Homo sapiens: one gene and its partner. The protein of the gene in region 1 purifies or fractionates together with the protein of each later gene. This does not show direct contact. Each region holds a gene or a part of one and is shown on either strand. Other genes may lie near its edges.

Region 1 (4,118 bases):
CTATTCTCAATCTCTCCACACACAGGGATCAGAACCTCAATATTAAAAGAGACTTGGCAGGGCACAGTGGCTCACAACTATAATACCAGCACTTTGGAAGGCTGAGGCAAGAGGACTGCTTGAGGCAAAGAGTTCATGACCAGCCTGGGCAATGTAGCAAGATCCTGTCTCTATACAAATTTTTAAAATTAGTCAGATGTGGTGCCACACAAGTACAATCCTAGCTATTCAATACGCTGAAGCAGGAGGATCACTTGAGTCCAGTAGTTCAAGTCTGCAATGAGCTAGCTTCACACTACTGCACTCCAGCCTGGGCAAGACTGTGAGACCCTGTCTCTAAAAAAACTAGGCCAGGCACAGTGGCTCCCAGCACTTTGGGAGGCCAAGGCAGGAGGATAGCTTGAGGCTCAGAGTTCGAGACCAGCTTGGGCAATATAGCAAGACCCTGTCCACAAATGAAAAAAAAAAATTAGCCAGGTGTGATGGCGCACACCTGTAGTGCCAGCTACTCAGGAGGCTGAAGCAGGAAGATCCCTTGAGACCAGCAGTTCAAGGCTGTGGTGAGCTATGATGGCACCACTGCATTCCAGCCTGGGCAACAGAATAAGACCATCTCAAAAAAAAAATAAAAAAAAAATTTTAAGCGGCTTAAACAATAAAGCCTTTATTACCACATAGTCCAGAGCAGTATGAGACAGTCCATGCTAGGGCATGACAAATACCATGTGTAATGTCAACCATTTCCATGAAAATGGTAAACCTTCCCAGGAAGCCCCCAGCAGATACCAGCTCAGCTCCTCCGGCCAGAGGTGGGTCATGTCCACAGCTAAACCAGTCAAGGGTAGGGAATGAGGCCTGTTTTGGGCTCCACTATTAACGATTCTCTACTGTTTAGAGCAAGGAGCACAAGGTCTGCTGTCCCACTTGCTGTAGGGACCTTATGGGGTGGATAGAGGTGGATGGCGGTGGATAAACTCAGTGATGTGACACTGCCAACAGCCCCAGGCAAGTCAGAGTGCAATGTGGCTCCCGAAAGCGTCCCACACACCAGGCACACACGGGAACTCTCCCTGGGGTGGGTGTTGGGATGTGCAAGGTTTAGCTTCTTTCGGATGGCACTCTCACGGCCACTCTCCTTAACCTCCTTTCTGGAATAAGACCTTTCCTGATGAACACGGTGCTAGCAGCTAACGACCTTCCCATGTGCCCTGTCCTCCTGACGCCTTTCTGGAGTATGGACTTTCTTGTGCTGAAGGAGGGTGGAACTATGTTTGAAGGCCTTCCCACACTCTGTACATTCATAAGACCTCTCTTCAGTGTGGAACTGCTGGTGCCGATTGCGGTAGGATCTGGTAGTGAAGGTTTTCCCACACAGGCTACATTCATAGGGCCGTTCCCCAGTGTGGACTTTCCAGTGCTGATAGAGGCCTGAACGGGTCACGTAGCCTTTCCCACATTGCTTGCATTCAAAAGGCCTTTCTCCAGTGTGAACTCTCTGGTGAAGAATGAAGCTATTATTGTATTTAAAGAACTTCCCACATTCTGTACACTCATAGGGCCTTTCTCCAATGTGCACTTTCCGGTGCCGAATGAGGGTAGACAGAACACTGAAGGTTTTACCACATTTGCTGCACTCGTAAGGCCTTTCTCCAGTGTGAATCCTCTGGTGTAGAACAAGTGCGTCTTTGCGGTTGAAGGTTTTACCACAGTCACTACACTTAAAAGGTTTTATGCCTGTGTGAACCTTCTGGTGTTTCCTCAGCTTAGACGGGTAACTGAAGGCCTTCCCACATTCATTACACACATGGGCTGTTTCTCCAGTGTGAATTTTTCGGGGGTTAATATGAGCTGACTTCTTGAAAGCACTTCTGCCTGTTGGGCATCTGAAGGGTCTCTCTTCAGAATGCGTTATCAGATGGTCAAGGAGGGCAAAGGCCTTTAAGAACACCTTCCCACAGTCACTGCATTTGAACAGCTTCTCTGCCACATGGACTTCTTGCTGTTGCCCACAACTGGAACCAGGTGGGAAAGCTGCCCCATGCTCAGTGTGCCTTCTTGGTTTCCCCTCACTATGAGTGTCCTGGTGCTGGATGACTCTGTAGCTCTTTAGATGCTCAGGATGGGCTCTCTCATCCTCCACTCTACACAAACCATCTGAAAGCAGAGATGAATCATTACTAAGAGTTGAACTAGAGGGAGGAGGTACCTTAATCACCAGTGCATGTCAGACACACCCAGAAGGACTCCATAGAACTGCTGAAAGGGCCAGGCGTGGTGGCTCACGCCTGTAATCCCAGTGCTTTGGGAGGCCAAGGCGGGCAGATCACGTGAGGTCAGGAGTTCGAGACCAGCCTGACCAACACGACGAAACCCCATCTCTTCTAAAAATACAAAATTAGCCGGGTGTGGTGATGCATGCCTGTAATCCCAGCTACTCGGGAGGCTGAGGCAGGAGGATCACTTGAATCCAGAGGCAGAGGCTGCAGTGAGCTGAGATCGCGCCACTGCACTCCAGCCTGGGCAGTAAGAGCAAAACTCCGACTCAAAAAAAAAAAAAAAAATTAGCCAGGCATGGTGGCAGGCGCCTGTAGTCCCAGCTACTCAAGAGGCTGAGGCAGGAGAATGGCATGAACCCAGGAGGCAGAGGTTGCAGTGAGCTGAGATTGCGCCACTGCACTCCAGCCTGGGCAATAAGAGCAAAACTCCATCTTAAAAAAAAAAGAATTGCTGAGAGGTTGCTAGGAAAGGTCTGGGTTGGGAAAGCCTGGCACAACTGAATATGGCTCCACCAGACTACAGACTAAGGAAAACCTCAACTGAGATGAGGGCACAAGATAGGATATGGTGCAGGGAAGAGAGGTGGGGTCTCCAAGTCACTCCTCTGCAAAGGGTTTCAGCAGGGCCTTGGCTGCTGGTGACAGCCAAGCACTATGAGGAGGCATGTGTCTAGTCCCAGCAAAATGTGATTCCAAAATAGTAGCTGGTGTTTAAGTATTAATTAAGGATTGGCTGAAGTTCAAATACCTGTTTAAGGATATGTGCACATTTCAAGACACGCACTGAGTCGCCAACAGTAGACAGCTCTGCACAGATACAGAGAAGGGCAATGAGGAGACGCAGGCCAGAGAGGCAGGAACATGCGGGGCCTGAAAATCATGGTAGAGATGGCAGACTGCACAGTGTCCACATAAGACAGGAAAGGTGGAAGGAAATAAGGTATGGTCACTGCCCTCAACACCAAGGTATCGGTGTATGCAGGTACTCAGCATTCTGTGAGCCCACTGCTGAAACCAAGGTATTCCCCTCCACTCCACTTACCAAGACCAAAACCTCTCCTGGCTTCTGCTCTGCTGACTGGAGTCACATCCACCCAGCTGGGCACCCACGACTGTTCATCATCCTCCAGCTGGGTAAACACAGGGGATCTCGAAGGTGCAAGTCCTGCGGGTGACAGGTAGTAAAAGAAACAGGCTGGGCATGGTGGCTGATGCCTGTAATCCCAGCACTTTGGAAAGTGAGGTAGGAGATCACTTAAACCCAGACGTTCGCAACCAGCCTGGGCAACACAGTAAGACCCCAACTCTACAAAAAATATATTATTTTAATTAGCCAGGCATGATGGCATGCACCACCTGTAGTCCCAGTTACTAGGGAGGCCATAGTGAGAGGATCACTTGAGCCTAGGAGGTCAAAGCGTCAGTGAGTCACGATCACACCATTGGACTCTAGCCTGGGCAACAGAGTGAGACCCTGTCTCAAAAACAAACAAACAGGCCGGGCGCAGTGGCTCACGCCTGTAATCCCAGCACTTTGGGAGGCCAAGGTGGGCGGATCACGAGGTCAGGAGATCAAGACTATCCTGGCTAACACGGTGAAACCCCCCTTCTACTAAAAATACAAAAAAATCAGGCGGATGTGGTGACGGGCACCTGTAGTCCCAGCTACTCGGGAGGCTTAGGCAGGAGAATGGCATGAACCTGGGAGGCAGAGCTTGCAGTGAGCTGAGATCACACCACTGCACTCCAGCCTGGGCGACAGTGCGAGACTCTGTCTCAAAAACACAAACAAACAAACAAAAAGAAAAAAAAAAGCCTTTCTATGAAGCAAAACTGACATAA
Region 2 (3,500 bases), on another chromosome or scaffold:
TACAGAGACTGGGAAACACGTGAATGCTGCCAGGAACCTGGGGCAAGAAGGCTCAGAAAGCTTACTCGAGCTGTGCTTGGCCAGATATTTGTCTTTGTACTTCTTCTTCTTCCCAAAGGGACTGCAGCTCGGGGCTTCGCTAGGAGCTGACTGAGCCATACTTGCCACTCGCCTGGTAGGAAAAGACAATCAAGGGGTCAGCTTTCCTCCCCCTCCCCTCATACCCCCCCCAGCCACTCAGTCTCTAATGGCACCCCCTTCACTCTCTGAGTGTCCATTACAGTGGGAGATAATGTGTGCAAAGCACCCCATACACTGTTTGGTGCATCTTGCACTGTGCCCTGCCCTCAGTCAGGGACCTGGCTCCTTGAGTCTGTGTCATCTAGTACCTGTCAGCACATTCTGGACACAACCCACAAACAACTCTCTTTCTTTGGTCTAGACCATAAAGGTCTCAAACCTTTATGACCCTACCTCACTCTAAGAAATACACTGTACATTGCAAGCCATTATTGCACATACATCTATAAACAAAACACATACACACACCCCACATATATATCTAAAACAACTGCTTCACAAAACAATAACTTGTATTACTACATGTAATATATTCTAATATTTCTATTCAGTGTCAACCCCACAATGGTTGTAATCTTTACACTGGGGTAAGTTTGCACAGGCAGAGGGAGGCTCAGTGTTGGATGTCTTATCAGTTGGAACTGTTTTGTGAATTTTTCTGCCATTCCTATGATGTAACCAGGACTAAGTGAGCAATCTGACTCGGGGACAGGAATTATTTCTTCCATGTACCAGGAATGTGCCTAAAGGACACATACTTAAATGCGACTGTTTTCTGCAGGACTCCAAGGAAATCCCAGAAACAGCATGGCTGGTAGAAGCGCACTAGCTTGGGAAACAGGAGACCAGGGAGGGCTCAGTCCCAGCACTGTCACGTGCTTGGTAACTATGGGGAAAACGTTTAAGGAAGCAAGAGGCCCACATAAGAATGAAGAGCTATTTGGGCTCCCTTGCCTGTGGTTGCCTCTCAGTCCAGCTTATCAACGCATGGTTAACCCTCCCCCACCCATTATGCCAGGAAATCTAGGAGGTCTCCTTGGTTGAGAAACAGAAACTACAAACAAAATGACAGATTTTCTGAAGCTAAGTTATTTGTGGCAGGCACATGGCCCTTCCACCTGCACAAAAATGGCTCACCATTCCTGCAGCTCAGGGGAAGGGATCAATCCTGCTGACTCCTTGGAGGAGCCTTCCACCCGTCCCTGCCACCAATTGCTGTCATCCTTGTTGATAATCTGGATAATGTCCCCAGTAGCAAACTTCAGTCCCGCCTCCTTGCAAGGGATCAGATTGTCCTTTTTGGGATCATAGTCAAACTGCGCTCTCATGAACATCTAAAAAGAAGGTAAAAGGAACTGCAGGCGGCAGCTTCAAAAGAAACACCAGCATCAGAGCATGTCCTGCTGTAGACAAATGGGGTCAGGATGGAATGAACAACAGGGAGGTAAGAATGGTGGGGGAGCACCCAAGAAAGAGAAATTGAAACGCTGAAGTGATTGTGTTTGCGGAGGGGTCAGAATGAATCCCTTTAACAAGAAGGCATGAGAAGCCAGGCGCAGTGGCTCACGCCTGTAATCCCAGCACTTTGGGAGGCCGAGGCGGGTGGAACACATGAGGCTAGGAGTTGGAGACCAGCCTGGCTAACATGGTGAAACTCCGTCTCTACTAAAAATACAAAAATTAGCTGGGTGTGGTGGCGTGCACCTGTAGTCCCAGCTACTCGGGAGGCTGAGGCGGGAGAATCGCTTGAACCCGGGAGGTGGAGCTTGCAGTGAGCCGAGATTGTGCCACTGCACTCCAGCCTGGGCGACAGAGTGAGACTCCGTCTCAAAAAAAAAAAAAAAAAAAAAAAAAAAGAAGGCATGAGATATCTTTCCACGTCAACGTGTCCACAGTTACTGCTGGATCTGGGTCGTCTGTCTCAGTACAGGGCAGCTACTCTTTGAACAACTGTTTTCACAATTGAAAATATGGACACTCATATCTATCAAAGAACTTGAATTTATTATTGAAAATTCTCCTCTCCTGCTCCCAAACACACACACACACACACACACACACACACACACACACACACACACCTACCTCATTACTTCATTGACAAATTTTCCAAGCATCATTTGAAGAAAGAAGGCTAATCTCATACGAAAACAGATTATAGAAAATGATGGCACTTCCCAACTCATTATAAGCATGATACCCAAATCTGACAAGAATCTTATAATTTCTCTCTGCAACAGAGATGTAAAAACCCCAAACAAAATATCAGCAAGTCAAATTTAGTTATGTATAAAAAGTATAATAAATCACAACCAAACAGGATCTAGTTCAGCAATATAAGAAGGTTTACTACCTGAAGGGCAATAAATTCACCACGTTAACATAAAAATGGAAAAAGATCATATGATCCCCTCAATAGATGCAGAAAAAGCCTGTGATAACATTCAAAACCCATTCAAGATTAAAATTCTTAGCAAACTTGGAATAGAAGGGAGGTTCTTTACTGTGAGAAAGAATACCTACAGAAACCCTACATCCAACGTCATACTTCTCAGTGAAAGATTAAAAGCTTTCCCTGCCTTTTTCAAAGGACATGGGTCTTGCTATGTTACCCAGGTTGGTCTCGAACTCCTGGGCTCAAGCAATCCACCCGCCTCGGCCTCCCAAAGTGCTAGGATTACAGGCGCATGCCACCACACCTGGCCAGCTTTCCCTTTAAGATGGAAAAATAAACAAAGATGTCTGCTATCATCACTTCCACTGGGATACTGTGAAGATGCCTCTTTTATCCAAACTGATATGTAGGTTTGACACAGGGATAAACAAACAGTCCAAAAGAAAAGAATAAAAAGTTCCAAAATAGACCTGTAAATATTACCATGACAAAAGTGACAGTGTACAGTAAATGATACTGGTTCAATTGGTATCCATATGGAAAAACTGGAATCTTGACCTCTTACCTTACAATGTATATAACAATCAATCCCAGATGGGTTGTGGATCCAAATGTGAAAAATCAAACAAGTAAGCATTTAGAAGAAAACACAGGAGAATATCTTGTTGACCTTGTGGTAAGTAAAAACTTTTAAAACAAGACATAAAAAGTGCTAATCAGAAAAAAGTGGTAGATTGGATTTCATTAAAATTAAGAGTTTCTAGTCATTAACAGGAACCATGAAGAAAATAAGCCACAGAAGAAGAGAACATACTTGGGATGCATATGACAAAGGACTCTTATCCAGAATATATGAGGAACTGCTACAAATCAGTAAGAAAAGCCTTGAATTGGTATCTTACAAAAGAGGATATCCAAGTGGAAAAAAACATATAAAAAGGAGTTTACCCTCATTAGTCATTAGAGAATTTTTAGAATCACAATGTGATACCACCATCAGGATGGCCAAAGGGTGAAAAAAAAC

What was found. Proteins that work in one complex are often made in the same cells at the same time.
Region 2: the proteins of ZNF584 (region 1) and MPP1 purify together in Homo sapiens (affinity purification with mass spectrometry; one large-scale study listed by BioGRID and IntAct). This does not show direct contact.

The regions. Positions count from the first base shown.
Region 1 is NC_000019.10:58,414,847-58,418,964, reverse strand, and holds the end of ZNF584 (zinc finger protein 584), read right to left. Parts: intron 3,442-4,118; coding exon 3,319-3,441; intron 3,173-3,318; exon of another isoform or gene 3,147-3,172; coding exon of another isoform or gene 3,025-3,146; intron 2,155-3,024; coding exon 1,181-2,154; 3' UTR 638-1,180; downstream 1-637. UniProt on the Homo sapiens protein: May be involved in transcriptional regulation.
Region 2 is NC_000023.11:154,784,986-154,788,485, forward strand, and holds part of MPP1 (55 kDa erythrocyte membrane protein), read right to left. Parts: intron 1,416-3,500; coding exon 1,219-1,415; intron 173-1,218; coding exon 66-172; intron 1-65. UniProt on the Homo sapiens protein: Essential regulator of neutrophil polarity. Regulates neutrophil polarization by regulating AKT1 phosphorylation through a mechanism that is independent of PIK3CG activity.